Regions from separate parts of the Homo sapiens genome. Here regions 2, 3 and 4 are each linked to region 1. Evidence: fine-mapped expression QTL. A gene starts in region 1. Each other region holds a variant in brackets. All regions are shown on one strand. Distances are from middle to middle.

Region 1 (8,112 bases):
TTTACTTAATGATAAACATGAATTCATAATCAATAAATCTGCCAAAACTATTCTGAATCTATTTACATTTCTAATTATTCTACTGTTAGGATTAATAAACTCTACTCTTTATTACCCATTATATCAAGCAGTGTTGTCTTTTGTCCTCACACACTTTTTTAAAAGTATATAACTTCCGAGTTTCAAGTGGTTGAGTTCCAGAATTAAAGAATTTGCTGATTAATCTCATATTCATACTTTCTGTATGCTTCTAAATGTCAAACATATTCTCTTCCAAGTTGCTATGATTCCAGACTAAATAGTTCATTTCTCAGTTCTCCTTGGTTTGGAAACCCTACCACCAACTTTACCATTTATTTATTCTCTCTGGATTTCTTTCATCTATGCAATTTTTTCAGGTTTACAATGGAATTACTTATTATATTGCATGAAGAGTAGAAAACCATTTTCTACTTTGTATTTAATACCTTTTCTGCCAATGTTTATCGCTTTTCTGATTATTTTAACTGTAACATCACATAATGCCAATATTTTCATAAGAATCCACAATTATTATCATCAGTTTATTTTCCGGGATTTGAATGAATTCAACCAACTCCAAAACCCACACTGCTCATTAGCTCATCATTTAAGGACACAAAAAAGTGGTGTCATTTACAAACTTAGGATTTCACAATTCATTGCCTTATCTGGATATAAATAGTAAAACTAGTACTACTCCCAATTCAAAATTGATTCTAGTAGGTCCTGTTATTGAAACTCTTCTACCCGGTAAAGCACCTGTTGCTAAGCATTCAGCTTATCGTTGATAGAACATCCCATGCCCTTCCTACCACATGCCAGACTATCTTTTTGATAGTTTTTATTGCTAAACTCTGATAAATGCTGTTTCAAAGTCTGACTAAATTACATTCATTAGCACCCCTCGTACACATATGAATATAACTCTTCAACATTAATGGTGACTACTATTTATTCTCTACCCTGTGGCAAATATTGTTCCAGGTTGTTTATGCTATCTTATTTAATCCTTACACAAACCATGAAATGTAAATATTACTATTATCTTTTAGCCATAAGAAAACTGAGGTTGAGAGCTTAGAGAATGTTCCCAAAGTCACATTATATATATAGGTGGTGGAGACCAGGATTCACATCCGGGTTTGCCTGAAGTCTTATATCAGACAGGCAGAATTGCTCCTGTAAATAAAGGCAGAATATTACTTTCTCTCCAATGACATTGGCTTGAGGGTTGGTTATAAATTAGGTCCCCCTTATCTGCATGAACATCAGCTTCATACTATTCTACAATTTTCAAACCTCACTCTGAGTTCTTAAGAGTGAGGATTACATTGGAAATGAACCTGTCCTCAAGAATAATAAACAGTTTTATTTAAATAAATCTAAAATGATTCTGTGCCATTACCACACCTGCTTCAACAACAACAATAAAAGAAAATAAGGACTGAAAACTTTTCTAATAGTTCTGTCTTCCACAGGACTAAGTGTGTATTCAAACATGTATGTTTGTTTATTTATTATTGTCATTATTGTTGTTTTGCTTATTTTTGTTTATTTTCATTCTGGTAGCTGGATCATCTGATCCTCTGACTTTCAAGATACTGGCATTTTCAGAACCTTTATAAATGAAAGGCTGTGAAGGACCTGCAAGATTATTTTCAAAGGCAATTTTTTATTCATTTAAATTGGGATTTGTGCCCTACATAAGAGAATATATACCCAAATCATATAGAAATATATTCTTAAGCAAATTTTTATAATCTTAAGCCCTTGTAACTTGAAAAATTAATATTAAGACTATTGCATACCTGAGAAGGAAGAGAAAAGGAGAGAGTAGATACTATTTGAGAAAAAGGCATGGAAAAACCAGATAAAGACGCATATCACACTTCCGGAAAATGGGACTGAAGAGAGAGAAACTGCAGAGCCAGCACAGCACCATCTCATCGTGGGGAGCTCTGGATGAGAAAGTATATGATAAAGAAGAATAAACAAGGGACACTGTTGAAGAGTTTCTGTTCACAAATATCTCACCCATTTATTCTACCAATTGGATGTTAATTTTGCTTTAAAAAAACCCTTTTAGTAAATATATTCTTGCAGGGTTAAAACCAGTGGTTCTTCATACCTTTACTTTGAGTAACTATAACTAAATTGTCTACAACTTAAATAAACTTTTGGGAGAATGTATGCTTTAATTAGTTGTTTTGATTGAACCATGGAACATTTCAGAGTAAAAACCATAAAGGTCTCTAAACAACCCGAGAACAGAATGACTGAGAAAGGCGGAATGATGAGATATTAAGGAAGGGCAAGGCTGGGGAAAGGAAGTGAAAAAATACTTACAGTTTTACCACAGAAAAATGAGAAGTTATAATTCAGTGATCTTGAAGTTTCCTTCCCGCTCTACAATTCTATGACAGTTGTTATGCAAAAAACGAATGTCTTACACATAAAAACTTATATGCTATATTTTCCTTCCTGGAATCTATATCATCCAACTGCTAAAGCAAAAGAGCTCCTTTTTCTACTCCAACAACATAAAAGAGAATAATTTATTAAAACTAGTTCCAGAGGACATAAAGAAAACCAAAGGGTAGAAATCATAGGGAGGTAAGCATCTTCCAAATAAAGAAATTAATAACACACCCTCGAATACTTTGATAATCAGTATTTGATAACTGAGTGAAATCTGGGGTCCAAAGAGATATACAGATCATTGGGATGGTTGAGAATTTCTCCCTTTGCAAAGAACACACCAAATAAGAACCCTCATCTGCCAGAGGTGAGAAAAAGTGATGAAAAGAGAGAATATTGCCCCACCAGCCTCAAGGCATTCAAGTTCCCCGGCATTCGGTCCTTAGTCCCTTCCCATTTGTCACCTTATTATTTTCCTGTCCACCCCTGCATCATCCACCTGTCACGTCTGTCTCCACAGTCACCTCTACAGACTTTTTTCACACTTTCCCTTCCTGTCTGCTGGTCTCAACGCTCTCTGTCCAGGGTTTACCCACATTTGCTCTACTCCGATTCCTTCCACCGACCCCCTAAGACTCCGAGCAGGTTAGAGGATCGCGCTGCCTCCCCCCTCCCCGCCCCGTAGTCTCCAACAGTGTAAGGGGTACTGTGGGAACAAAACCCAGAGGGGTTTGTGCCTCTTCACCCCCATCCCGGGAGGCTCCCCCTCTATCCCCGGATGGTCCTCACTCACAGCGCACAGTGTGGAAGGCGCAGCGCGGCTGCTTCTCGAAACTCTCCCCTAACTTGAGAACCCGCTCGCGACGGTCTAGGTGTGAGAATCCCGCTGCGCTATTCATAATTACTCTCCTGCTTTGACTTTAACTCCGCCACCAGCGCTCACTATCTGCCACCTCAGCCTGAAGCAGCTGCACTTGATCCCGCCAGCCAAGTCACCCAGACTCCACCCCGCGCTCGACGCGCACCGCCCCACCGGAGCGTCTCACGTTCTGATTGGCTTATTAGCAAAGGGCGCTCCGCCCCTTGACTCCGAGGCTCCTAGTCCCGCCTCCAGGCCCCTTCCCGCGTCGCGACGCACGCTGCCCCGGAAGGCCGCGGCGCTGTAGTGCGGCGTGGGAGCCCCAGGTTCTTTAGTGGAAGAACGCGAAGCGAGGATGAGGTAACTTATCTGAGGTGGTGGCTGGGGAGGGAGAGGGCCCCAGGGCGCCTACCAGGAGGCCAGGACCCCAGGCTCCTGGACGAAGTCAGCCGGCTTGTAAGAGCTCTTAACGGGAGAATCGGCCTGCCCTCACGCCCACTCTGTAGAGATCTGGTGTGGAAACTGAGGCCTGGGGAGGTGCAGTGTCCAGGCACAGGGCCTAGTGTCTTATCCAAGGCCTGGTAGCGCGAAAGCCGGGTCTAGAATCTGGAGTAAAGGAGCCCAGAGGCCCCAGAATCTCGGTCCTTAGACTTGAAGCGACGCTGTTACCTCAGTAATCGTTTTCTGACCTTTTTGTACCAGAGGAAGTTTCTTGTGGTCCTAGGACTGGAGAAGGGGATGTGTAGTGGGGAGGAGAAAGAGGATTCGGAGATAGCAACTGCAGACATTTAGGATCAGCCGCAACAGGATCGCACTGAATTTCCTTTTCATTTATTTTCCTCACAGTGATCCGTGGAGGCAGTAACAGGCGCGGCGAGGGAGAAGTGATTCCCGAAGAATCAAGGCTGGGCCGGACCCGGTGGCCTGGCAACAGGGTAGTAGCCTTAAAATAGATAAATAATTGTCTTTTTGTGTCAAATTTCATGAATTTAATGTAAAGATGGGAGAAGTGTTGAATTATAGGAGAAACACTCGAGAAAGTTTACAGATGGTTTCCATAACAGGTGGTTTTTCAGGGTAATTACGCAATCCAACTGCACTCCCTCACCTTCTGCCTTAGGCACATTTGTCAATTGATTTTGGGGTAGGTGGTTATGTCTCCTTCAACCTGTCTGTGTAAATCCTACCCTTTGAAGGTGTGCCGAAGCTGTTTCATATCGTAGTTAAATGCTTTAAGGCAGATGGTGGCTCTAGTTTGAACCCCTGCTTTATACTTAACAGTGTGACTTTGTGCCAGCTAATTACATTCTCCAGAGTTTAAGTATGCTCATTGTTCAAATTGGGAAAAAAATAATAGTATCTGTTCCTTAGAGTTGTTGGAATGATTAAATGAGTTAATACATGAAAGCAATTAGAACAATTCCTGGAGCATGATAAGAGGTCTCCAAATGGTTATTTAAGGCCCAGCTCTACACTTATACTACATTTTAAGACCATCTTGGTGGCTGCCTTCTCTTCTAAATAGAATCATTCTAGGAGGTAGGAATTGCTATTTTGTTTACAGCAAGAAAAATGGTTCAGAGAAGCCCAGTCCTCTGACTTTATGGCCTGTATTCTTATCTGTGTCATCTATTTAGCATTTAACATATATCTGATATTCTTAAGTATATTTTTTTGTATCTGTGTGTGTGTACACATGTACATAAACATACTTTTCTTTCCCAACCAGAACAATAGCAGAGAGTATGTCTTGTGTAGAATCTTTGCATCCCCTGCATCTACCATACTGCTCTGCACATATTTGTTGATGACAATAATGATTTAGTGATGTTTTATTACGGTAGCCAGGAGGGCACAAACTGTTTTGAGCCTATTTTACGTTAGAGAGGCTTCCAACTATAAATCTGAGCTTTCTCTATTGTAACAAGAGAAAAACAGAAAGTCAAGAAATTGAGGCTCAGAATGCCTGAGGTTTGTGCATTTACTCATACTTTCAACCTGTATTTAGCAAATCCTAGTACGTGCCAGGTACTAGTCTAGCCACTGGGAATACAGTTGTGAACCAAAGATATAAGAAGGCAGCCAGCAAAGATGGTCTTAAAATGTAGTATGATGGTAGAACTGGGCTTTAATAATAACCATTTGGAGAGCTCTTACTATGTGCCAGGAATTGTTCCAATTGCTTTCATGTATTAACTCATTTAATCATCTCTAAGGGATAGGTAGGTTGCCCTCATGAAGCTTACCTTCTGAGGTGAATTTTCTCCAAACATATATTAAAATGAACTATGTTGTACTAGCTCAAGAATAGACAAACAGATTAAATTACTAGAAACTAAGTAGAGTCCAAAAAGATACCCTGTGTATGTGTATGTATACATAGTGCATGAAAATGTGACGTTTCAGATTGTTTCTGTTATGTCTATTCATAACTAGTTACCTTATGAATTTATGACTACTGTGTGCATTTTTTAATCCATCAATAACTTTAACATTAAAAATTAGATTCTTATATGACACCATTCACAAAAATACCTTACTTTAGAAGATATGTAAGGAAAACAAAACCAAAAAAACATGAAGATTTGGAGAATGTTTTTTATCTCTTGGGTTAGAGAGGACCTTTCTAAACAGGACACAAAAGACAGATGCCATAGAGGAAAAGATTGTTATATTTCATATGTAAAAATTGTAAAAATGGCTGGGCGCTGTGGCTCATGCCTGTAATCCCAGCACTTTGGGAGGCCGAAGTGGGCAGACCACTTGAGGTCATGAGTTCAAGACCAGCCTGGCCAACATGGTGAAACCCCATCTCTACTAAAAATACAAAAATTAGCTGGGCACGTTGGCACACGCCTGTAATCCCAGCTACTTGGGAGGCTGAGGCATGAAATCACTTGAACCCAGGAGGTGGAGGATGCAGTGAGCTGAGATTGCACCACTGCACTGCAGCCAGGGTAAACAGAGTCAGACTCTCTCTCAAAAAAAAAAAAAAAAATTGTAAAATTATGGTAAAGACCCCATAGTCAAATTTAAAAAAATAAATGACAAGGAGAAAATTTTACAGCCAATATAAAAGAGAAAAGATTCCTATCCATGTATGAAAAGCTTCTGCAAAAGAATAAGACAAACCGATAGAAATATAGTCAAGGGATATGAATAGAAAATACATAAAAGAAATAATGGCCAGTGAACACGAAATGTGCCTGACATCCCTAATAATCAAAGAAATACAAATTAAAACACAATCATACCAATTTTCATCTAACAGATTGGCAAAAATGTAAAGGATCATGTGTATATTCATTGCAGTGTTGCTTGTAATAGCATACAGCTTGAGTGACCTCCAGTAGAGGTGATGTTTAAATATATTTTGCTGCATTCTTAAAAGGAAATGTAGCATAATGCAGCCATTTGGAGAGAATGAGATAACTATATGCACTCTCTTTGAAAGTTTTGTGACTACTATGTGCCGGGAGTTGCACTGGGCTTTCTTTAAGGTATTTTCAGCAAACCTGTCTTTTAATGATTTATATTGTACCTAATAAGAGATATATGAATGGAAAAACAGTTTTTGCTCTCACATCATGACAATCAACACAAAAGACTTCTGTGACCAAATGTGTGGAGTTTTCTTCCACCAACAAGCAAGCAATCAATTCTGCAGCGGACACCAGCTGGGTATCATCTAATTCAATTCTGACACTGTCTACTTGGAGATAGGGTCAGATCCCTTAGGTTTAGGGCTTAGTCCTGCAAGAGGGACCCCCATTTCTGATGCCAATCCAAGCCCTAAGTTGTTTTACCTGTGCTTCTGACTGACCAGCTACACATGAGGAATCCTATTAATACACACCTTGGGGTGTATTAATTTGCTAGAGGAGCTAACAAAACTGAGGGAAACATGTTTTCCAGTTTATTATAAAGATATTACAGAGACCCTGGGCAACATGGAGAAACCCTGTCTCTACTAAAAATACAAAAAATTAGCCGAGCGTCATGGCTTGCAAGTGTAGTCCCAGCTACTTGGGAGGCTGAGGTGGGAGAATCACCTGAACCTGAGAAGTCTAGGCTGCAGTGAGCCATAATTGTACCATTGTCCTCCAGCCTGGGCAACAGGAGTGAGATCCTGTCTCCAAAAAAAAATACTAGGATACAAATGAAGAGATGCATACTGTGAAGTATGGGAAGGGGCACAGAGCTTCCATGTCCTCCCTGCCTGTGATATCCAGGAAATTCCTCCAGGAACTTCCACATGTTCAGCTATCCAGTAGCTCTTTGTACCCCATCCTCTTGAGCCTTTTATGGAGATTTCAATGGATAGGCATGACTGAAGCATGGACAATCATTTTGGAAATGTGATTGGACAAAAAAGATATGATCTGATACTAACAGACTGAGTGGGGAAACCCAGCAAGGCCTGTCTGCTCAGATTCTTCTTGGCTTCTCTGTTCAGCATTCCTTCCAGGATATAGGGCAAGACCCATTCTGAAACAGGGGTCTTATGACCTACAGCTAGACAAGATAGGTCAGAGAAAGGCAGGGATGATTAGAGTTCTGCTTTGGAGAGAAGGAGCAGGTGAAAGGAGGAGAGGAGGAAGTCAGAAATAGATTCTGTTTTCTGAGGCCTAAAGCACCCTAACATAACAAGACTGTAACAAAGGCTATGGGAGTTATGAGCCAGAAACTGTGGACAAAAACATATATATGTATATGTATATATGTATGTATGGAAATGATCACACGCTCTATCTACTTCATAGCCCTGTTGTGAGGATTACACAAGACAGTGTATAGTATATTAACATAGTGCT
Region 2 (8,112 bases), 140 kb before region 1:
TAAACTCCTATACCTGTGGATAAATTGATTTTTGACAAAGCTGCTAAGGCAATTCAATGAGGGAAGGATAGTATTTTCTATAAATGGTGATGGACCACTTGTTTAGTCATATGCAAAAAGATGGATTTAGACTCTTACACCTTATACAAAAATTAACTTCAAATGGACAATAGACCTAAATGTAAGAGCTAAACCCCAAAAAGTATAGAAAAATCTTTTTTGTCCTTAGGTAAGGCAGAGTCCTTAGATATGACACCAATAGCATAATCCTTAAAAGAAAAAATGTATAAATTGAATTTCATCAAAATGTAAAACTTTTTTATTTCAAAAGAACACCATTAAGAAAACAAAATACAAACTACAACCTTAGAGAACATATTTGCAAATCATATTTCTGATAAAGTACTTCTAACCAGAATATATCAGGAGGGCTTACAACTCAATAATAAGACAAACCCAACTTGTTTTAAATGGGCAACGTTTAAATAGAGACTTCATCAAAGAAGATATAAAAATTTCCAACAAGCACATGAAAAGATGATATACATCTTAGGGAAATGCAAATTAAAACCACAGTGAGATACCACTTCATAGCCACCAGAATGGTGAGTTAGTCGGCTAGGGTTGCCATAACAAAATATCACAGACTGGGTGGCTTAACAGAAATTTACTTCTCACAGTTCTGGAGACTGGAAGTCCAAGATTAAGGTGCCTGCAGATTTGGTTTCTCCTGAGGCCTCTTTTCCTTGGCTTGCAGATGGTAGCCTTCTCACTTTCTCTCTCATATGTCCTGATCTTTTCTTTCTAGGACACCAGTCAGATTGGAGTAGGACATACCCTAAATATCCTCATTTTAACTTAATGCCCTCCTTAAAAGACTTATTTCCAAATATAGTTACATTCTGAGGTACTGAGGGGTTAGTGCTTCAACATATGAATTTGGGGGACAGGGACACAATTCACTCCATGATGTGGTAGGCATATCCATGGACTTCCGTAATAAAAGGGAATAAATTACTGACTTGCTGCAACACGGATGAGTTCAAAAACATTATACTAAAGAAAAGAAGCCAGATACAAAAACCACATATGAGGTGATTCTATTTGTACGAAATGTCCAGAAAAGGCAAATCTACAGAGACAGAAAGTAAATTAGTGGTTGCCCAGCACTGGAGTGGGAATAGAGATGGTAAGTGAACATGAGGGTTATTTTCAGAGTGATAGAAATGTTCTAAAATTGGTTGTTATTATGATCAAACAACCTTGTAAATTTACTAAAAATTGTTAACTTGTACAATCATAAGAAGTGAATTTTCTGATTTGTATATTACACCTCAATGAAAATTTTAAGCATAGTAAATGAACATCATTCCAAGTATTTTTTTCTCTGCTTATACAGAATGAGAGCAATAGATAACCTTTTAAAATGTGTTCATATGAATGCTACTAATTTTAGTCAAAAAAAAACCAAAAAACTTTTGCTGGCTGTAGTGGCTCACACCTGTAATCCCAGCACTTTGGGGGCCAGAGGTCGGGGGATTACTTGAGCTCAGGAATTACAGACTAGCCTCAGCAACATAGCAAGACCTCGTATCTACTAACAATAAAAATTTTTAAAAATTAGCCAATCACGGTGGCATGTGCTTGTACTCCCAGCTACTTGGGAGGCTGAGGTGGGAGGATCGCTTGAGCCTAGGAGGTCAAGGCTGCAGTGAGCTATGACCGTGTCACTGCACTCCAGCCTGGGCAACAGATTGAGACCTTGTCTAAGAAAAATAAAAAATAAAACCTGTTTTGCTGGATTTTAACAGAAGAAAAGTAAATTGAAGGGAAACTAGAGGAATTGTTAAACTTTAAATCTTTCATTTCAAGAGATTTTATTTCTTAAGGAACCCTCCTAGATTATGAAAGAAGACAAAGGAAAACATGATGAAGTTAGAATCATTGTACTTTAAACCCTCAGGTTTCAAATGGACTTCCTGGTATTGAAAATGAAAATACTGGCACTCTCACACTTCCTCTAATATTACACCTCTGCATCTCTCAACTTAGTTTTGTTGTTACAGTAAACAAAACTAGTTATGTTTATTTTAGAAAACCCAAAAAAGATAATTTTTATTCAAAGTTATTTTCCAACTTCCACAGAAGGGGAACAAAGAATTCTGATGGTCATCTTAAAAATCAAAGCTATTCTGATCTTTTAGGATTCTGCAGAAAAAAAAGCTGCACTTTTTTGTGGGAGTTTTTATAGAGGACAGTGTTCATAGAGTTCACTTGAAGTTCAGATACATACATACATGAACTAGCCAAGCCTTCAGATTTATTTTAATCATCTCAAACATATTTCACAATTTTTGACAAATATAAAGGCTTACATTTCAGATGAGTCAGACAGTTTAACAGCACCAGAGCCTTAATTTCTTTAGCTTGAATGAAAGGAAAGTAGGCAGAGAAATATAGTAGTAGGTAAAGATAGAGCATTGTCAAGTTTTATATTACTGGAAACCTCATCTGAACCTGAGGTTAGTAAATATAATCTGTATAAGTCTGTTTTCATGCTGCTGATAAAGATATACCTGAGACTGGGCAATTTACAAAAGAAAGAGGTTTAATTGGACTTACAGTTCCACATGGCTGGGGAAGCCTCACAATCATGGCAGAAAGCAAGGAGGAGCAGGTCACATCTTATGTGGATGGCAGCAGGCAAAGAGAGCAGTGCAGGGGAACACCCATTTTAAAACCATCACATTTCGTGCAACTCATTCACTATCATGAGAACAGCACAGGAAAGACCTGCCCCCATGATTCAATCACCTCCCACCTGGTCCTTCTCAAAACATGTGGGAATTCAAGACAGAGATTTGGGCGGGGCCACAGCCAAACTGTATCATTCTGCCCCTGGCCCTTCTGAAATCTCATGTCCTCACATTTCAAAATCAGTCATGCCTTCCCATCAGTCCCCCAAAATCTCAGCTCATTTCAGCATTAACCCAGAAGTCCAAGTTTAAAGTCCCATCTAGACAAGGCAGGTCCCTTCACCTATGAGCCTGTAAAATCAAAAGCAAGTTAGTTACTTCCTAGATACAATGGAGATACAGGCATTAGGTAAATACAGCCATTCCAAATGGGAGAAATTGGCTAAAACAAAGGAGTACAGGCCCCATGCAAGTCTGAAATCCAGCCGAGCAGTCAAATCTTAAAGTTCTAAAATGATCTCCTTTAACTCCACGTCTTGCATCCAGGTCACACTGATGCAAGAGATGGGTTCCCATGGTCTTGGGCAGCTCCACCCCTGTGGCTTTGCAGGATACAGCCCCCCTCCTAGCTGATTTCATGGGCTGGCATTGAGTGCCTGTGGCTTTTCCAGGTGCATGGTGCAAGCTGTCAGTGGATCTACCATTCTGGGGTCTAGAGGACAGTGGCCCTCTTCTCACAGCTCCACTAGGCAGTGCCTCAGTAGGGACTCTTTGTGGGGGCTCCAACCCCACATTTCCCTTTTGCACTGCCCTAGCAGAGGTTCTGCATGAGGGCCTTGCCCCTGCAGCAAACTTTTGCCTGGGCATCCAGACATTTCCATACATCTTCTGAAACCTAGGCAGAGGTTCCCAAACCTCAATTCTTGACTTCTGTGCACCCACATGCCCAATACCACATGGAAGCTGTCAAGGCTTGGGCTTGCACCCTCTGAAGCCATGGCCTGAGCTCTAAGTTGGCCCCTTTCAACCACAGCTGGAGCAGCTGGGACACAGGCCACCAAGTCCTTAGACTGCACACAGCATGGGGACCCTGGGCCCCGGCCCACAAAACCACTTTTTCCTCCTGGGCCTCCATGTCTGTGATGGGAGGGGCTGCCATGAAGGTCTCTGACATGGCCAGGAGAGATTTTCCCCATAGTCTTGGGGATTAACATTAGGCTCCTTGCTACTTATGCAAATTTCTGCAACCGGCTTGAATTTCTCCCCAGAAATTGGTTTTTTAAAAATTTTCTATTGCATAGTCAGGCTGCGAATTTTCCAAACTTTTATGCTCTGCTTCCCTTATAAAACTGAATGCCTTTAACAGCACCCAAGTCACCTCTTGAATTCTTTGCTGCTTAGAAATTTCTTCTTCCAGATACCCTAAATCATCTCTCTCAAGTTGAAAGTTCCACAAATCTTTAGGGCAGTGGCAAAATGCCGCCAGTCTCTGTGCTAAAACATAACAAGAGTCACCTTTGCTCCAGTTCCCAACAAATTCCTTATCTCTATCTAGACCACCTCAGCCTGGACCTTATTGTTCATATCATTATAGGTATTTTTCTTAAAGCCATTCAACAAGTCTCTAGGAAGCTCCAAATTTTCCCACATTTTCCTGTCTTCTTCTGAGCTCTCCAAACTGTTCCAACCTCTGCCTGTTACCCAGTTCAAAAGTTACTTCCACACTTTTGGATATCTTTTCAGCAACTCTACTGGTACCAATTTACTGTATTAGTCCGTTTTCATGCTGCCGATAAATACATACCCAAGACTGGGCAATTTACAAAAGAAAGAGGTTTAATTGGACTTA[C/T]GGTTCCACATGGCTGGGGCAGCCTCACAATCATGGCAGAAAGCAAGGAGGAGCAGGTCACATCTTATGTAAATGGCAGCAGGCAAAGAGAGAGCTGTGCAGGGGAACGCCCCTTTTTAAAACCATCAGATCTCATGAGACTCATTCACTATCATGAGAACAGCACAGGAAAGACCTGCCCCCATGATTCGATCACCTCCAATTGGGTCCCTGCCACAACAGGTGGGAATTCAAGATGGGAGATCTGGGCAGGGACAAAGCCAAACCATATCACAACCTTTCTTTAGACAGCCAGGTCATAAATATACTGTAACCCCTAGATCCTATTATCAGAAAAAAAAAAGTGTGACTATCATCTTATGGCTTTTGCAAAAGGTTCTCTAGAAGGCAATGTTCCTAGAGTCTGTTCATGTTTATAAAAGCTGTTGGTGGACCTAAAACTTCAACTACATCTCAGTATAAGTTTCTATTTAGAATATTATCATTTGGTATTACATGTTGCTGTGGAAAAAACTGAGGACAGTCTATTTTTTTCTTCTTCTCTTCTGTAGATCAATGGTTCTTAAAAGTATGACATGTTGCTGTGGAAAAAAACTGAGGACAGTCTTATGTTTTTTTTTCTTCTTCTTCTTCTGTAGATCAATGGTTCTTAAAAATATGACCCCTGGATTAGCAACATCAATATCACCTAAGAATTTGTTAAAATGCAAATTCTCAGGCCCATTTTATGGCTACAGAATTAGAAATTCTGAGTATAAAGTTGAGTAGCCTGTTTTAACAATACATCCAGGTACTTCTCATGCACACTAAAGTGTGATAACTAATTAAATATTTACCTTTTCTGCCTGAGTGCTTGAAGAAGTTTTGCCTTGAAATTCAATAACCTAATCCAGGATATAATTGAGAGCTCTTTATCAAAATTTTCTATATTCATCTTTGAATATGTACTCTAGCTGGTAAAGGATGCAGAGTGAACAAATAAATCACTTGGCTTTTATGACTGGATGACCGTACATTTTCCCAACATGTTTATTACTAGTGCCTCCTTTCACTCTCAAAATTGTTCTAGTTGGAGTGATCAATTATATTATATGGTCACCCTACTTATGACCAGTGATTCCAGTGGTTTTCAAAATATGTATGGCTAATCAAGATGCTGGGGGATTCTGTGGAAACCCTGATAAGAGAATTAGAGGAGAGGCCCATAGCATTTTGGAGCAAAATCGTGCCTGATTTGAAAATTAATTGCCCTCATTTTGAGAGATAGCATTTGGCTTGCTATTGGGTCATAGTAGAGACCAAACACCTACTTGACTGTAGGACAGGAGGACAGTCAAGTCAGTTCCCCACATGAATTTGGTGTCTTATCTATCACCATAGAGTCCGGCATGGCAGCAACACTCCTCCAGCATGTGGTATATTGACCTTAAGCAGGTCCTAAAGTCAAGAGTAAATTGGATGAACAGGTGGCTATCATTCCTGGTGTGCCTACTGCCATCACACTGCCATCTTACTCTCATCTATACCTGAGCTACATGGAGTGTTCTCTATGATCAGTTGATTGAAAAAGAAAAACATGTGAAGCTAGTTTATAAATGGTTCTCCATGAAAACTGGAGATAAACTTCTGCAGTGCAGCAGCCCCACCAAGGGGTGGAATTCCTTCCAATGGGCAGAATTTTAAGCAGGCTATCTCACTGCCCATTTTGCCTAAAAGAGAGATGACCCAAGAAACAGATCTACAGTAATGCAGGGATTGGGGCTAATGATTGGCAGGTCAGAGATACACAAGGAGTAAGATATAAGGATGTATAACAAGTTGGCCTGAAGAAAGAGGTATGTGAAGGGATCTCTTAAAGTAAACTCAGAGTGTGAGAATATTTGTGTCCTATGTAAATACTCACCAAATGACTTTTATTGCAGAGAAAACATTCTTTACCCAGGTAAACATGACTCCCTTCCAATTTCCGCATGCAGGGCTCTATGATCAATTATTCAATGACAAAGATTCCTGTGGGTCAAATCATTATAATTACCCTACCAGCCTTTCTCCTATTAAAATAAGCAGGCCAAATTGTTTCTGGTATATTGGTGTAATTCATTAGTCTCTGCCACCCTGAGATGTCATCATTCTTATTGAAATCATAGAGACTATTTCAATATTGGTATTTTCCAACTTCATCTCTGGCATACAGAAATCAGCCACAATGGTGCTTTTCAAATATGTTGGTACTACCTTCATTTATGCTTTTCTCTATGCTCTTATTGAAACTGCCTTTGCAAAATCATGACAGTAAGAGAAATTTGACATAGTTGACTCCATCTTGCTTCTGATCTCCAAGCTGTCCTTGGTCATTGCTGGGCATAGGCCAAGCTAACTTTGGAAATGATTTATAGTTTTACCCAAAACAAAGATTATAATAGTCCTTTCCAAAACTAAACTGCCTTTATAAAAGTAATGAAAGTCCAGAAGGTTGGGATTGTGAAAGGGGCCTGAATTCTGAAAAGATAGGCATAGTTTCTGTAATTCCTTACTGCTCAGGGGTCATGTAGCCAGAAGTCACAAGACTTGTGACTTTTCTAACTGTTCCTATAAGTAATATCACTATTGTACAACCTAAGATTGTTTTTTTAAGATGCTTTTCAGACTGATACCACCTGGACTCATGACTTATGACTCAGCGAATCCTATTGCCCCAAACAGAGGTGGACTCAGCATGTGAAGATTGTTTTCCACACCCCTATGATTTCATCCTCAACCAATCAGCAGCACCCATTCCCTAGCCCCCGCCCACCAAATTGTCCATAAAATCCCTAACCTCCAAGTCTTTGGGGAGACTGATTTGAGTGATAAATTTGTTCTCCTGAGTCAGCCAGACTCACATCAATTAAACTCTTTCTGTCCTGCAATGTTGAGGTCTCAGTGGGTTGATTTTTATCTGTTCAGTGGGCAAGAAGAACCCATTGGGTGATTACATTATGACAGGTATGTCTTCAGGGATGGAATGGCTGAGTGAGTAACACAAAACAAATTCACTTTAACATTCTGATAAAAGAAAAATAGCTCAGGGCAATGGCAAGATTTAGCAGGCCCAGAGAAACACTGGTATGGGACTTTAGTCATACCCCTTACCCATGTCCAAAGGCAATTACTTAAAGACATTTTGTTCCTGATAGCTGCCTCACTCATTATCTTCAGGTTCCTGGAATTTGTGATACAAAGAACAGTGTACAGCCAATTAATAGCTTGCATTGTTTTAAGGTAAATTGTTTGTAAAGAACTCAGGAACTGCCTCTTCTTTTTTCCTTAAAAACCTACTTGTAACTGCTGTGAATCAGAGTGTATATTCAGGGCAACTTGAATCTATGCTCCCTGGTGGCCATCCACAAGCTTTAGGCCCAAATAAACTCTCTACTTAATCATATTTTCTGAATCTAGTTATTTAAGGTTGACAATTCTTATCTCCCTAAATCTTTCTTTCTCTACGAGGGATTTTTGAAGTCTCAACTCAACATAGGCCAAAGTAAATATAATTTTCAGTCTACCACCAAAAAACAAAAAACAAAA
Region 3 (8,112 bases), 110 kb after region 1:
AGATAGAAGTAGTAAGAGACATCTTTGCCTTGTTTCTCATATGGTGAGAACATTCAGTTTCTCACCATTAATTATGATGTTGGCTGTAAGTTTTTTAAAGATGCCCTTTATTAGGTTGAGGAAATTCACTTCTTAGTTTGCTGAGAATGAATTATTCTTATTGTGAATTCATAATCATGAATAGATATTGAAATGTGTCAAATGCTTTTTCTCAATCTATTGACATTATGTGGTTTTCCTTATTTAGTCTGTTAATATGGTGAATTACATTGATTTTCATATTTTGAATTAGCATTACATTTCTTGAACCCCACTTGGTTGTGATGTATTATCTTTTTATATATTACTGGATTTAATTAGCTAATATTTTATGGACTATTTGAATATTTTGTTGACTGTGACCATGAGGAACATTGGTCTTTAGTTTTCTTGTAATATCTTTGTCTGCTTTTAGTATTAGGGCAATGCTAGTCTGGTAAAATAAGTTAGAAGGTGTTCCTTCCTTTTCTATCTTCTGGCATAGATTATATAAAATTGGTATTATTCCTTAAATGTTTCTTGTTACCTACTAATGAAGCCACCTTGATCTGGAGTTTTCTTTTTTTAGAAGGTTTTTAATGTATGAATTCAATTTCATATTTATATGTGTGTATATATATGTGTGTGTGTGTCTGTACACACACATGCACCCACACATATCTACTCATTTATATTCAGGTTCTCTATTTCTTCTTGAGCTTTTGGTAGCTTGAATCTTTCAGTGAACTGACCCATTTTATCTACATGGATGAACTTAAAAGTATAGGGCTATTTGTAGTGTTTATTATCTTTTAATGTATGTTAGATCATTAATGATGTTTCCTCTTTCATTTATGATGCCAGTAATTTGTGTCTTCTCTGTTTTTTTCTTGGTCATCTTGACTAGAGTTTTATCAATTTTATTGATCTTTTCAGATAATCAACTTTTGGTTTTATTGATATTCTCTATTTTTCTATTTTTATTAATTTCTACTCTGATTTTTATTTTTATTTTTCTGCTTACACTGGCTGTAATTTGTTCTTCTTTTTCTAATTTTCTATAGAAGAATCATAGGTTACTGATTTCTGTCCTTCCTCCTTTTCTAATATATGCATTTAATGCTGTACATTTTGAACAAAGTTTATATTTAAATTTTAGCAAAGCCACATGGTTTATCAAGAAAGCTTTCTGAAAGAATGGGGTTCATGGGGCACATAAAAAGAAAAATGTTGCAGTATCATGGAGTTTATTTGAACAAGTGGGAGAGAATAACAGTCTGACAGAGGAAGAAAGAATAAGACATTCATGTTTGGGCATGTGCCTGTAGTCTCAGCTACTCGAAAGGCTGAGGTGGCAGGATCGCTTGAGCCCAGAAAGCAGAGGTTGCAGTGGGCTGAGATTGCGTCCCTGTACTCCAGCCTGCGTGACAGAGCAAGACCCTGTCTCAAAAAAAAAAAAAGAAAAAGAAAAAAGAAATTCATGTTTGTAAGTGAAACTACTATGAAAGAAGGGCATTAAAGATAAAAACTACCTTTAAGGTGTATTTAACAATTATAGATTGGTATTTAACATTGTATTAATGTTTAACGATTAGGTACTTACATTTTATTTTAGAAATGGTGTTAGTGATGGTGATAACCTCTGTACAATTGCCACTGAAAAGAACAGCGTGTGACTACACTGGAAGTACTCAAATGCCTTTTTGAAGACATCATTGTGCTGCAGACTGTGTCTAATACAAATCACCTGTACAGTATTCTTTTTTCATTCACGGATGATATGGTTATCAATATAGGAGAAGCCTATGTTCATTTTGCTGATTCTTAGGTTTTTTCCCCCCTTCTTTTCCTACAGAAATGCTGAGCCGATTATCAGGATTAGCAAATGTTGTTTTGCATGAATTATCAGGAGATGATGACACTGATCAGAATATGAGGGCTCCCCTAGACCCTGTGAGTAGTTCTGTTCTGATTTAAACTGGTAAGACATATGTTCTGTGTTCTTCTAAGGAAAATAATTTAAGATAGAAGGGTGTGCGAAGCCTCCCTGGTACTAGGTGAAGCGAGGATTAAGAAAAATATTGAAATTTTATAAGTGATCCTTCTCTTGTAAGTTTTTAGCTTAAAAGCCACAGTGATGGGAAACAAGTCCTGGATACAATTTGAAAGGGCTTTCTCATTTGTCTCCCTGGGCCTTGTTTGGTGCCAGAGTGTTTTAAGTCCTTTGTTCTCATCCTTGGCTATTCCTTTTCCACAGGAAAGGTCTAAGTGACAAATGAGGAAACTGGAACACCTTTTGGGTTTCAGAATATCTGTTTGCTTTGTAATTTCATTTACCACTTCTCCTATAGTTTGTATTGTATTTTCTTTTTTTTTTAAGATGATACAAATTGGCAGTATGTATTATATTTTCTGAAGTCCACATAAGGAATTAATAAAACTTCTTAGTTTTCTGAAAAGACAAGAAGTAATGCGTAGTGGTTAAGAGAGTTTTACTTAACTACTCTTAATTTTAACTTTTGGCCTTTTACCCTTACTGGTTTATGATTTTTGCTTTCCTTTATTTTTCTCTTTGGTAAAATTAGGATAATAATACCTTAAATGGGATAATGTTTGTAAAATGCTTAACATTTATAAAATACTTAATATATTGTAATGGCTATGATAATGATTATTATTGGATCAGAGTTAGATTCTTAAGTTAACAAGAATATGAATTGGGCAAAACATAAAAAGTTGGAATGAAGAAACTCCTGTTGGGAAGCTAATACCTTTTCCTGGTGCACTGGCAACTTTTTTCCTAAATATTAGGAATTACACCAAGAATCTGACATGGAATTTAATAATACTACACAAGAAGATGTTCAGGAGCGCCTGGCTTATGCAGAGCAATTGGTGGTGGAGCTAAAAGATATTATTAGACAGAAGGATGTTCAACTGCAGCAGAAAGATGAAGCTCTACAGGTACTATTGTTTTTATCCTTTCTTGTGGAGCATTTGATAAAGGACAGATGATACACTACTCACTTTAATTTTTGTCTCCACTTAGATTATTAGGGAATCTGATTATCTCCCTAGTACTGTAACCTTATGCCTACTGAAAATAACTTTTGGGTCGGTGTGGTAGCTCACACCTGTAATCCCAGCATTTTGGGAGGCTGAGATGGGAGGATTTCTTGAGGCCAGGAGTTCGAGATCAGCCTGGGCAACATAGTGAGACCCTGTCTCCACAAAAAAAAATTTAAAAAAAATTAGCTGGGCATGGTATTGGGCACCTGTAGTCCCAGCTACTCTGGAGGCTGAGATAGGATCGCTTGAGCCTGGGAGTTAGAGGCTGCAGTGAGTTGTGATTGTGCCACTGCACTCCAGCCCTGGTAACAGAGAGATACCCTGTCTCTGAAAGTAATAATAATAAAAATAACTTTTAGTATGTGCTAGATAAGAGGGGAATAAACATTTATGTATTTACCATCATTGTTTTTGGGCAGGAAGAGAGAAAAGCTGCTGATAACAAAATTAAAAAACTAAAACTTCATGCGAAGGCCAAATTAACTTCTTTGAATAAATACATAGAAGAAATGAAAGCACAAGGAGGGACTGTTCTGCCTACAGAACCTCAGTCAGAGGAGCAACTTTCCAAGGTATGGTGACTGGGTGTAGTGTATATTTCCTAAGTTGAAAAAACCTACCAATACAGCAGATCTTCACCAATCACAAACATTTAGGATGCTAAAATGATACAGCACTAAATAATGTTTTGTTTTTTTTTTTCTTATAGAGCTTGTAGTTCAGCTGGACTGTAGGCCACACACAGGGAGAATGAAAGATGTACAGAAAACATGGATATGAAATGCCAGTTGTGACCTGGACTTTCAGGGATTAAAAAAGGCTTACAGGAAGAAATAAGTACTGAAGTGAGGCATTTAGAGAGGAGGGAAACATACCTTTTGGAGGAGTTTCATCATTGATTAGAAGATTAAACTAGATTATCTCTAAGGTTTCTTCCAGCTCTGAAACTTTTTAATTCAATGACTTAACACAGAATATTCTGTGTCCTCATATATAGTCACATAGTGGTGGATTAAAGCTTCATGCATGTGGGCTGAATCAGCTGAATTACCTGGGACTCTCTAAAAGGGAGGCTCACTAGGTTTATGACTGCAGCCAACAAAGCAGTTTAAGGTTGGAGATACAGAGGAGGAATAAGGAAAGTACTGCCCTGTGAGGAATATTGTCCCAGTACTCAAATTTTCATTATCTTTCCTGTATGGTTAAACTCCACATATTCACATTCAGTCAGCTATTTAGAGAACAAGAAACTTCAGTTTTGTGGAGAGTTTGATACAGATTATATGGAGGCAGGCATATCACATGCATACTGTAGTTATAGAGTGAGCCTAGACTTCACCGTGTGTAAGAAATCTTTTTATTTTTTTAGTTTCATTTTGTTTTGCTTTGACCTGCTAGTATCCTTAGTTCTTGGGAAATGAGATTTTAATCAGTTTTCTAGGCACAACCTTTGGGATCGCTAGTTAGTGACCCAGTTCCTGCTTAGTCTTTCCTCTCAGGGCCTAATGATCAGAGAAC[A/G]TTACTTTCCCTGAATTGATAATCTTATTTAACTTCTTGAAGCCTATTTTAAAAGCTTTTCTCAATCTTCTCAAATAATTTCACCTTGATCCTTCTTTTCCTTTTGGTTTTTCCTCTGTCAGTTCTCTTCCCCTCACTGTGGTAGCACCAACCTCTCTCCTCATATTGCTTTGTTCCCTCCAGCTTCTCCTCAGCTATGATGTCAGATTTTTAAATTATCCATTTTATACTCTGCTTTTTAATTTCATTTTTAGCTCTGAGACCTTAAAGCAGTAATGTCTTAGAGTTCATTTTCTTTCTCTGTTAAAGAAATGATTTCTAAGTTTCAGCAATCAGTCATAGCAACCCTTTAACTATTATATACTCAATACAGAGCTAGGTATTCTGTGGAAAGTATAGTTGAAGAAATGACAACAGTCCTCAGGTGCTTGACTGACTTATGTGAAAGTATAAAAGTATTCTTTGTAATTCCAGTAAGCAGAAATAGCTTTGTTTAGGGGGTTGGGAGGGACTAAATTTACAAAGAGGCAGAATCTCAGTCTAAGGGAGAGCTTTTGGAAAAAAAAATAGATTATTGAAAAAATTGGATTTCCCCTCACTGGCTCTTTTCTGATGTGTTGCTTCTCACTTAGCAACAGCTATAGTTTCCTGAGCTCTCTCCTTGATTCTTCAAGGCAACAAGACTTCGGGTTTTCTATTAAGGTTTAGTCCTGCATGGCACTGACTGGTTTTGCCCTCAGAATAAAAGCTGTCAAAATGGGAAACTCGGTACCATTTCTTCCAATTATCACATCCCCTCCAGTATCTTCCTGCTTTTGGTTGCTCTCCAGTATTTTCAGATAGCTGTTTTCTATATTGTCCACAGTTTTGGGTTCACATGCTTGGTGTGAGGGAAAAAAAAAAAAAAAAAAAAAAAAAAAATATATATATATATATATATATATATATGTGTGTGTGTGTATGTATTTCACAGTTTATAGCTATTATGTGAGGGAGGGTAGGTCTAACAGGAACTGCTTGGCCATACAAAAACTGGACAACCCTAAGATTTCTTATTTGTTAGATCAGCTGGTTTTTCTTGCTCCCATCAGTTTAATAAAATTATAACTAAATGGTTGTAAATGAAAAATTAGAAGAAAATATCAAATATATATTAATTGTAATTCTTTTAAATAATGACTTTATCTCCTGCATTTTCAGCATGACAAGAGTTCTACAGAGGAAGAGATGGAAATAGAAAAGATAAAACATAAGCTCCAGGAGAAGGAGGAACTAATCAGCACTTTGCAAGCCCAGCTTACTCAGGCACAGGCAGAACAACCTGCACAGGTAGGGGTGGAAGTTACTTCATAATCATTAGGTTAATGAATCACTAAAACCAATGGATTATTATGTGACAAATACATTTTTCTAGATGCACAATGGGCATTTATCTATGTATATATCAGTCTCCTTCTTTTCTTCATTTCTTCTTGTCTGGTAATTTTATTAGAATATGCATTGGTGTTTGTCATTTTTAGTTGTTATTCATAGATACCCAGTATACTCTTTCAATATATGGTTTCACATATTTTAAGTTTGTTTTTTTGTTTGTTGTTTTATTTCACTTTAGGCCTTCTATTTTTTGTTTGTTTTTGTGTTTTTTCTGTTTTTTTATCTTCTATACTGCAATGATTTTTTCTTTTCTATTGGATTTTTCATGAGTTCAGTCACCTCATTTCTGATTTTTCTAAATCTGATTTATGTTTTTCTCTCATCTCTGTATAATTTTTTTTTCTTTTCTTTTCTTTTTTTTTTTTTTTTTTTTTGAGACAGGGTGTCACTCTGTTGGCCAGGCTGGAGTGGAGCAGTACAGTCTCAGCTCTCTGTAACCTCTGCTTGCCAGGTTCAAGCAATTCTCCTGCCTCAGCCTCCTGAGTAGCTGGGATTACAGGCATGCACCACCATGCCTGGCTAATTTTTTGTATTTTTAGTAGAAATGGGGTTTCACCATGTTAGCTAGGCTGGTCTGGAACTCCTGACCTCAAGTGATCCACCTGCCTGGGCCTCCCAAAGTGCTGGTATTACAGGTGTGAGCCACCATGCCTGGCCTGTATAATTTTCTTAATTTTTAAAAACTTTTTGAAATAGATTGCAATTTTGATTTTTTTTTTTTTAGTGTGGCTCTGGTATGCTTTTATCACCTATAATCATATCATTCTGCTCCTTAGTTTTGTTTTTAATTTATAATAACAGAAATTTAATTTAATTTAAATAAATTTATTTCTTACATTTATGGAGGCTGAGAAGTCTAAAGTTGAGGGACTGCATCTGGTGAGGGTCTTCTTGCTGATAGGGCTCTCAGTGGTGTCGCAAGGCAGCGCAAGTCATCACATAGTGAGGGGGCTGAGTGTGCTAATTTGCCAGCTCAGGTCTCTCTTCTTCTTATAAAGCTACCAGTTCCCCTTCTATGACAACCCATTAATCCATTAATCTGTGAATGTGTTAATCCATTGCTGAGTTCAGAGACCTCCTGAACCAGTCCTTTCTTAAAGGCCTCTTGTCACACTGGGGATTCAGTTTCAACGTGAGTTTTGGAGGGGACATTCACATCATAGCCTTCCACCCTTGGCTCTCCAAAACTCATATTCTTCTCACATACAAATACATTAATTGCATCCCCACAGCCCCAAAGTCTTAGCTCATTCCTGCACCAATTTCTGTGAGCCTGTGAAATAAAAACACATTATCTTCCTCCAAGATACAATGGTAGGACAAGCATAGGGTTCACATTCTCATTCTAAAAGGGAGAACTAGGCAAGAAGAAAGAGAGTAACAGACCCCAAGCAAGTTTGAAAACCAAGAGAGTAGACATTGGGCCTTAAAATTCCAGAATAATCTTCTTTTACTCCATTTTCAGCATCCTCTGCCGGTACAGGGGTTGGGTCCCCAAGACCTCAGGCAGTTCTGTCCCTATGGCTTTGCTGGGCTTAGTCCAGCCAGCATTCCCAGGCTGACTTTGCATTGCACACTGGTAGCTCTATAGTTCTGGTATGGCAGTGGTAGTCCCACACCGTGATTCCACTAGGCATTACTCTAGTGGGGACTCTGCAGGGCAATTCCAACCCCTCATTTCCCCTTGGCATTGCTCTAGTGGGGCTCTCTGTGGTGGTTCTGCCTCAAGACAAGCCTCTGCCTGAGCCCCCTGGCTATTGATGACATCCTTCGACATGTAAGTGGAGACTACCAAGCCTCCACAGCTCTTGCTTTCTGTGAGCCTGCAGAATTAGCACCATGTGGATGTTACCAAGTTTTACAACTCGTACCTTTTGAGCTGTGACATGAGCCATACCTGCGGCTGCTTTGCACTAACCAGAACAGCTGGGCTGCAAGGAGCAGTATCCTGAAGTGGCACAGAGCAGTGGTATCTCAGGGCCTATTCACAGAAACCATTCTGTCCTCTTAGGGCTTTGGGCCTGTGATGGGGGCTGTTGGGGCAGCCTTAAAGATTTCTAAAATGCATTCTGA
Region 4 (8,112 bases), 24 kb before region 1:
GGAAGGACCAGGCAGCAACATTTGCCCTTCTGCAATATTTGCTACTCTGCAGCCTCCGCTGGTGATACCCAGGAAAACAGGGTCTGGAGTGCACCTCCAGCAAACTCCAACAGACTGCAGCTGAGGGTCCTGACTGTTAGAAGGAAAACTAACAAACAGAAAGGACATCCACACCAAAACCCCATCTGTACGTCACCATTATCAAAGACCAAAGGTAGATAAAACCTTTATCTACCTTTTGGGATAAAAGATGGGGAGAAACCAGAGCAGAAAAGCTGAAAATTCCAAAAATCAGAGTGCCTCTTCTCCTCCAAAGGAATGCAGCTCCTCGCCAGCAATGGAATAAAGCTGGACAGAGAACGACTTTGACGAATAGAGAGAAGAAGGCTTCAGACAATTGGTGATAACAAACTTCTCCAAGCTAAAGGAGGATGTTCGAACCCATCGCAAAGAAGCTAAAAACCTTGAAAAAAGATTAAACAAATGGCTAACTAGAATAAACAGCATAGAGAAGACCTTAAATGACCTGATGGAGCTGAAAACCGTGGCACGAGAACTACGTGATGCTTCCACAAGCTTCAGTAGCCAATTAGATCAAGTGGAAGAAAGGGTTTCAGTGATTGAAGATCAAATGAATGAAATGAAGTGAGAAGAGAAGTTTAGAGTAAAAAGAGTAAAAAGAAATGAACAAAGCCTCCAGGAATACGGGACAATGTGAAAAGACCAAATCTACGTTTGATTGGTGTATCTGAAAGTGACAGAGAGAATGGAAACAAGTTGGAAAACACTCTTCAGGATATTATCCAGGAGAACTTCCCCAACCTAGCAAGGCAGGCCAACATTCAAATTCAGGAAATACAGAGAATACCACAAAGATACTCCTGGAGAAGAGCAACTCCAAGACACATAATTGTCAGATTCACCAATGTTGAAATGAAGGAAAAAATGTTAAAGGAAGCCAGAGAGAAAGGTCGGGTTACCCACAAAGCGAAGCCCATCAGACTAACAGCAGATCTCTCGGCAGAAACTCTACAAGCCAGAAGAGCATGGGGGCCAATATTCAACATTCTTAAAGAAAATAATTTGCAACACAGAATTTCATATCCAGCCACACTAAGCTTCATAAGTGAAGGAGAAATAAAATCCTTTACAGACAAGCAAATGCTGAGAGATTTTGTCACCACCAGGCCTGCCTTACAAGAGCTCCTGAAGGAAGCACTAAACATGGAAAGGAACAGCCGGTACCAGCCACTACAAAAACATGCCAAATTGTAAAGACCATTGATGCTAGGAAGAAACTACATAAACTAACGAGCAAAATAACCAGCTAACATCATAATGACAGGATCAAATTAACACATAACAATATTAACCTTAAATGTAAATAAGCTAAATGCTCCAATTAAAAGACACAGACTGGCAAATTGGATAAAGAGTCAAGACCCATCAGTGCACTGTATTCAGGAGACACATCTCACATGCAGAGACACACATAGGCTCAAAATAAAGGGATGGAGGAAGATCTACCACGCAAATGGAAAACAAAAAAAAAGCAGGGGTTGCAATCCTAGTCCCTGACAAAACAGACTTTAAACCAACAAAGATCAAAAGAGACAAGGAAGGCCATTACATAATGGAAAGGGATCAATTCAGCAAGAAGACCTAACTATCCTAAATATATATGCACCCAGTACAGGAGTACCCAGATTCATAAAGCAAGTCCTTAGAGACATACAAAGAGACTTAGACTCCCAAACAATAATAATGGGAGACTTTAACACCCCACTGTCAATATTAGACAGATCAATGAGACAGAAGGTTAACAAGGATATACAGGACATGAACTCAGCTCTGCACCAAGTGGACCTAATAAACATCTACAGAACTCTCCACCCCAAATCAACAGAATATACATCCTTCTCAGAACCACATCACACTTATTCCAAAATTGACCACATAGTTAGAAGTAAAGCACTCCTCAGCAAATATAAAAGAATAGAAATCACAACAAACTGTCTCTCAGAACACAGTGCAATCAAATTAGAACTCAGGACTAAGAAACTCACTCAAAACGCACAACTACATGGAAACTGAACAACCTGCTCCTGAATGACTACTGGGTAAATAACAAAATGAAGGCAGAAATAAAGATGTCCTTTGAAACCAATGAGAACAAAGACACAACATACCAGAATCTCTGGGACACATTTAAAGCAGTGTGTAGAGGGAAATTTACAGCACTAAATGCCCACAAGAGAAAGCAGGAAAGATCTAAAATCGACACCGTAACATCACCAGTCAAAGAACTAAAGAAGCAAGAGCAAACAAATTCAAAAGCTAGCAGAAGGCAAGAAATAACTAAGATCAGAGGAGAACTGAAGGAGATAGAGACACAAAAAACCCTTCAAAAAAATCAATGAATCTAGGAGCTGGTTTTTTGAAAAGATCAACAAAATTGATAGACCACTAGCAAGACTAATAAAGAAAAAAAGAGAGAAGAATCAAATAGATACAATAACAAATGATAAACGGGATAGCACCACTGATCCCACAGAAATACAAACTACCATCAGAGAATACTATAAACACCTCTATGCAAATAAACTAGAAAATCGAGAAGAAATGGATAAATTCCTGGACACATACACCCTCCCAAGAATAAACAAGGAAGAAATTGAATCCCTGAATAGACCAATACAGGCTCTGAAATTGAGGCAATAATTAATAGCCTACCAATCAAAAAAAGGCCAGGACCAGACGGATTCACAGCTGAATTCTACCAGAGGTAGAAAGAGGGGCTGGTATCATTCCTTCTGAAACTATTCCAATCGATAGAAAAAGAGGGAATCCTGCCTAACTCATTTGATGAGGCCAGCATCATCCTGATATGAAAGCCTGGCAGAGACAACAAAGAAAGAGAATTTTAGACCAGTATCCCTGGTGAACACCGATGTGAAAATCCTCAATAAAATACTGGCAAATTGAATCCAGCAGCACATCAAAAAGCTTATCCACCATGATCAAGTCGGCTTCATCCTTGGGATACAAGGCTGGTTCAACATATGCCAATCAATAAACATAATCCATCACATAAACAGAACGAATGACAAAAACCACACAATTATCTCAATAGATGCAGAAAAGGCCTT[C/T]GACAAAAATCAACAGCCCTTCATGCTAAAAACTCTCAATAAACTAGGTATTGATGGAACGTATCTCAAAATAATAAGAGCTATTTATGACAAACCCACAGCCAATATCATACTGAATGGGCAAAAACTGGAAGCATTCCCTTTGAAAACTGGCACAAGACAGGGATGCCCTCTTTCACCACTCCTATTCAACATAGTGTTGGGGAGCTCTGGCCAGGGCAATCAGGCAGGAGAAAGAAACAAAGGGTATTCAATTGGGAAAAGAGGAAGTCAAATTGTCCCTGTTTGCAGATGACATGATTGTATATTTAGAAAACCCCATTGTCTCAGCCCCAAATCTCCTTAAGCTGATAAGCAACTTCAGCAAAGTCTCAGGATACAAAATCAATGTGCAAAAATCACAAGCATTCCTATACACCAATAACAAACAAACAGAGAGCCAAATCATGAGTGAACTCCCATTCACAATTGCTTCAAAGAGAATAAAATACCTAGGAATCCAACTTACAAGGGATGTGAAGGACCTCTTCAAGCAGAAATACAAACCACTGCTCAAAAAAATAAAAGAGGACACAAACAAATGGAAGAACATTCCATGCTCATGGATAGGAAGAGTCAATATCGTGAAAATGGCCATACTGTCCAAGGTAATTTATAGATTCAATGCCATCTCCATCAAGCTATCAATGGCTTTCTTCAGAGAATTGGAAAAAAACTACTTTAAAGTCATACAGACACAAAAAACAGCCCGCATTGCCAAGACAATCCTAAGCCAAAAGAACAAAGCCGGAGGCATCACGCTACCTGACTTGAAACTATACTGCAAGGCTACAGTAATCAAAACACCATAGTACTGGTACCAAAACACATATATAGACCAATGGAACATAACAGAGGCTTCAGAAATCACACCACACATCTACAATCATCTGATCTTTGACAAACCTGACAAAAACAAGCAACGGGGAAAGGATTCCCTGTTTAATATATGGTGCTGGGAAAACTGGCTAGCCGTATGTAGAAAGCTGAAACTGGATACTTTCCTTACACCTTATATAAAAATTAATTCAAGATGGATTAAAGACTTAAATGTTAGACCTAAAACCATAAAAACGCTAGAAGAAAACCTAGGCAATACCATTCAGGACATAGGCATGGGCAAGGACTTCATGACTAAAACATCAAAAGCAATGGCAACAGAAGCCAAAATAGACAAATGGGATATGATTGAACTAAAGAGCTTCTGCACAGCAAAAGAAACTACCATCAGAGTGAACAGGCAACCTACAGAATGGGAGAAAATTTTTGCAATTTACCCATTTTACAAAGGGCTAATATCCAGAATCTATGAAGAACTTACACAAATTTACAAGAAAAAAACAAACGACTCCATCAAAAAGTGGGCAAAGGATATGAACAGACACTTCTCAAAAGAAGACATTTATGCAGCCAACAGACACATGAAAAAATGCTCATCATCACTGGTCATCAGAGAAATGCAAATCAAAACCACAATGAGATACCATCTCACACCAGTTAGAATGGCGATCATTAAAAAGGCAGGAAACAACAGGTGCTAGAGAGATGTGGAGAAATAGGAACACTTTTACACTGTTGATGGGACTGTAAATTAGTTCAACCATTGCGGAAGACTGTGTGGCGATTCCTCAAGGATCTAGAACTAGAAATACCATTTGACCCAGCCATCCCATTACTGGGTATATACCCGAAGGATTATAAATCATGCTGCTATAAAGACACATGCACACGTATGTTTATTGTGGCACTATTCACAATAGCAAAGACTTGGAACCAACCCAAATGTCCAACAATGATAGACTGGATTAAGAAAATGTGGCACATATACACCATGGAATACTATGCAGCCATAAAAAAGGATGTGTTCACGTCCTTTGTAGGGACATGGATGAAGCTGGAAACCATCATTCTGAGCAAACTACTGCAAGGACAGAAAACCAAACACCACATGTTCTCACTCATAGGTGGGAATTGAACAATGAGAACACTTGGACACAGGGTGTCCATCACACACCGGGGCCTGTCATGGGGTTGGGGGAGAGGGGAGGGATAGCATTCGGAGATATACCTAATGTAAATGATGAGTTAATGGGTGCAGCACACCAACATGCCACATGTATACATATGTAACAAACCTGCACGTTGTGTACATGTACCCTAGAACTTAAAGTATAATAAAATAAATAAAATGATACAAATTCTCTTATATGGATATTGCTTACATAAAACTAAAAATCATAAGCTACATCATTACCCAGAAAAATGCGTAATTACAAAAAATATTATGCTCTTGGTAAACATTTATAATTAGTACCACTGTTAATTAAAATGAAAAAATTCATTTAGCATTTTTTTTTCTTTTTTTTTTTTTTGAGATGGAGTCTCACCGTCACCCAGGCTGGAGTGCAGTGGCGCAATCTCAGCTCACTGCAACCTCTGCCTCCTGGGTTCAAGTGATTCTTCTACCTCAGCCTCCCGAGTAGGTGGGACCACAGGCACATGCCATCATGCCCAGCTAATTTTTGTATTTTTAGCAGAGATGCGGTTTCACCATGTTGGCCAGGCTGGTGTTGAACTACTGACCTCATGATCCGCCTGCCTCGGCCTCCTAAAGTGCTGGGATTACAGGTGTGAGCCACCATGCCTGGCCTTAACATTTCTTAATTATCTCTTATAAAGGGATGTTACATATACTTAGATTTTACCTCTTTCGATATCATCTATTGGAGATGCTGGGGACATCTTATCTTCAGATGGAGAATGTTTTACAAGATTGGGAGTCCTGGCTGAATTCCACATTTGTTGTTGCTGTTGTTCTTTACGATACTGAATTTTACTGCTTCCTTCAACTCTGCAATTAAGAATATCAAATATTGAAACAGGTATGACAGCAATGTAACAAAAATTTAACTTACAAAGTTACTAAAACTGACCACTTATTCTTTTCCTAAACATCTTTAGAATAATATTCCATAATTAAAACATTAATTTAGTTCATTATTTAACAAGTATTTATCAAGTTCTATTTCTGTGATACACATGTCCATTGAGGGATACAAACAAGAACAAAAACAAAACCAGTGCCAGGCTTGGCGCCTCATGCCTGTAATCCCAGCATATTGGGAGGCTGAAGTGGGAGGATTACTTGAGGCCAGGAATTCAAGACCAGCCTTGTCAACATAACGAGACCCTGTCTGTATAAAAATAATAAAAATATTAGCTGGGCATGATGATGCACACCTGTAATCTCAGCTATTTAGGAGGCTGTGGGAGGATCATTTGAGCCCAGGAGTTAGAAGCTGCAGTAAGCTATGATTGCGCCACTGCACTCCAGCCTGGGTGACAGAGTGAGACCCTGTCTCATAAAACAAAAACAAAAATCCAGGCTGGTGCAGTGGCTCATGCCTATAATCCCAGCACTTTCGGAGGCTGAGGAAGGAAGATGGTTTGAGGCCAGGAGTTCAAGACCAGCCTGGGCAATATAACGAGACCCTCCATCTCTATTTAAAAATAAATAAAACAACAACCAAAAAAAAAAAAAAGCCATTGCTTAAATTGAACAGATAAGATATTCACAAATGACTAAAATAAAAGGAAAAATATAAGTGTATAACAGGTACGATATATTCCGTAAGTTCTAAGATTATCATTTCTGTTAAAACTAAATCACTTCTAAAGTTTCCATTCATAACTTAAGACAGGCATGATAATAAAGGAGATTCATATACTTTTCTTTCAATATCTTTAAGAAGAGTGTAGTATAATAAAAGTATGCTTGATTTTTGCCTCTCCCATTTCCAGTCACCAAATCCTGTCAGTTCTTCCTTCAAAAAGTCTTTAGAACCTCACTTTCTCTTCATTCCTGCCCTCAAAAATCCTGGTTTATACATTTTTCTGATTCCTACATTGTTTCATTTACTCAGTTTCTCTACTGAATTAATGTTTTAAAACAAAACTGTAAACATGCCAATCCCTGGTTAAAAAGACTTTAATATGTAACGACTACCAGCAAGATAATGTCCTAATTTCTTAGTTAATATTGATGGCACTAACCTCAACCAACAAAATTACAACCTTACCTCTAGCCCAATATCAACATCGCCCCCTACTTTCCAAAACGTATACACAGGTACAGAGACAAACCTCTGCTCCGTTCAAGTAGGTCTTACTCATTGGCCCTGAATAAATCAGATATCAAACTTGTCTTACATTCTCATCTCCTCTCTAATCAATTAAATCGGTATTGCACAAACTTTCTTCTGGTGTGAATCACAGCAGGGCATGGATGGTAGGGGTGAGGGGATATTAAAAAATAGAGTTTCCCAGGATCCTTCCCTGATTTAAGGTTGGATTCGGGAACTAATTTTTAACAAGCACCCAAGGTAATTCTTATGATCCTAACCTCCTCTTAAGGTACATCAAAAAGGCCTCCCTGAATTTTCCAATCTACCATTACTTCTCCTTTTTCTTAATTCCTAGAGCAATTTTTGTCTATACTATTTGCATGGCTTTTAGAGCAAACATCCTTATATTACAGGGTAAGTAATGTGTTACCTATTTCCAAAAAGGATTTGAGATGGGTATATTCTCCTATTGACTTTTTAAATGGAATAGTCTGTTTATCTGAATAAAATGCAGAAGTTTTGAGGTGTTTGCAGAGCAAACTTTCCTTTTTCTAGTACCTTACACATCCTAGGTACTCAATAAATTTTTACTAATGAAGATGAAATTATTTTAGAGAATGTATAATGGCTTCCTTCAATCCAGTTATACAGAAGTATCTACAATAGGATAAAAAGTGTACCTATACCTATAGAAAGCATTTAGAAGCAAAACAAGCTTTTATATATCACAGGGTAATGTGGTAAAACGCTTTTTGCTTAGGATCTCCACCAAATTTAAACTTAGAAAAAGATTAAAACAT

Evidence for each region. PIP is the estimated chance that this variant, and not a neighbour inherited with it, causes the effect. A credible set is the group of variants that fine-mapping cannot tell apart.
Region 2: its variant is the best candidate, but not a certain one, in a credible set for the expression of EAF2 in cerebellum (GTEx, PIP 0.53).
Region 3: its variant is the best candidate, but not a certain one, in a credible set for the expression of EAF2 in fibroblasts (GTEx, PIP 0.58).
Region 4: its variant is the best candidate, but not a certain one, in a credible set for the expression of EAF2 in whole blood (INTERVAL, PIP 0.54).

Annotation. Positions count from the first base shown.
Region 1 is chr3:121,830,512-121,838,623 of GRCh38, reverse strand. EAF2 (ELL associated factor 2) reads right to left here and starts at 3,415. Exons shown (of 6, transcript NM_018456.6): 1 at 3,233-3,415. The coding sequence starts at 3,338. IQCB1 (IQ motif containing B1) reads left to right here and starts at 3,564. Exons shown (of 15, transcript NM_001023570.4): 1 at 3,564-3,658; 2 at 4,145-4,233.
Region 2 is chr3:121,974,180-121,982,291 of GRCh38, reverse strand. No RefSeq gene overlaps it. Among named protein-coding and RNA genes, the nearest start is that of ILDR1, 44 kb to the left of the region's middle. The variant C/T (reference allele first, on the strand shown) is at 4,546.
Region 3 is chr3:121,724,735-121,732,846 of GRCh38, reverse strand. GOLGB1 (golgin B1) reads left to right here. Exons shown (of 22, transcript NM_001366282.2): 2 at 1,874-1,971; 3 at 2,830-2,982; 4 at 3,507-3,659; 5 at 5,806-5,934. The coding sequence starts at 1,876. Among named protein-coding and RNA genes, the nearest start is that of GOLGB1, 21 kb to the left of the region's middle. RefSeq lists an enhancer at 687-1,886. The variant A/G (reference allele first, on the strand shown) is at 4,606.
Region 4 is chr3:121,854,938-121,863,049 of GRCh38, reverse strand. EAF2 (ELL associated factor 2) reads right to left here. Exons shown (of 6, transcript NM_018456.6): 4 at 5,894-6,039. Among named protein-coding and RNA genes, the nearest start is that of EAF2, 24 kb to the right of the region's middle. The variant C/T (reference allele first, on the strand shown) is at 3,150.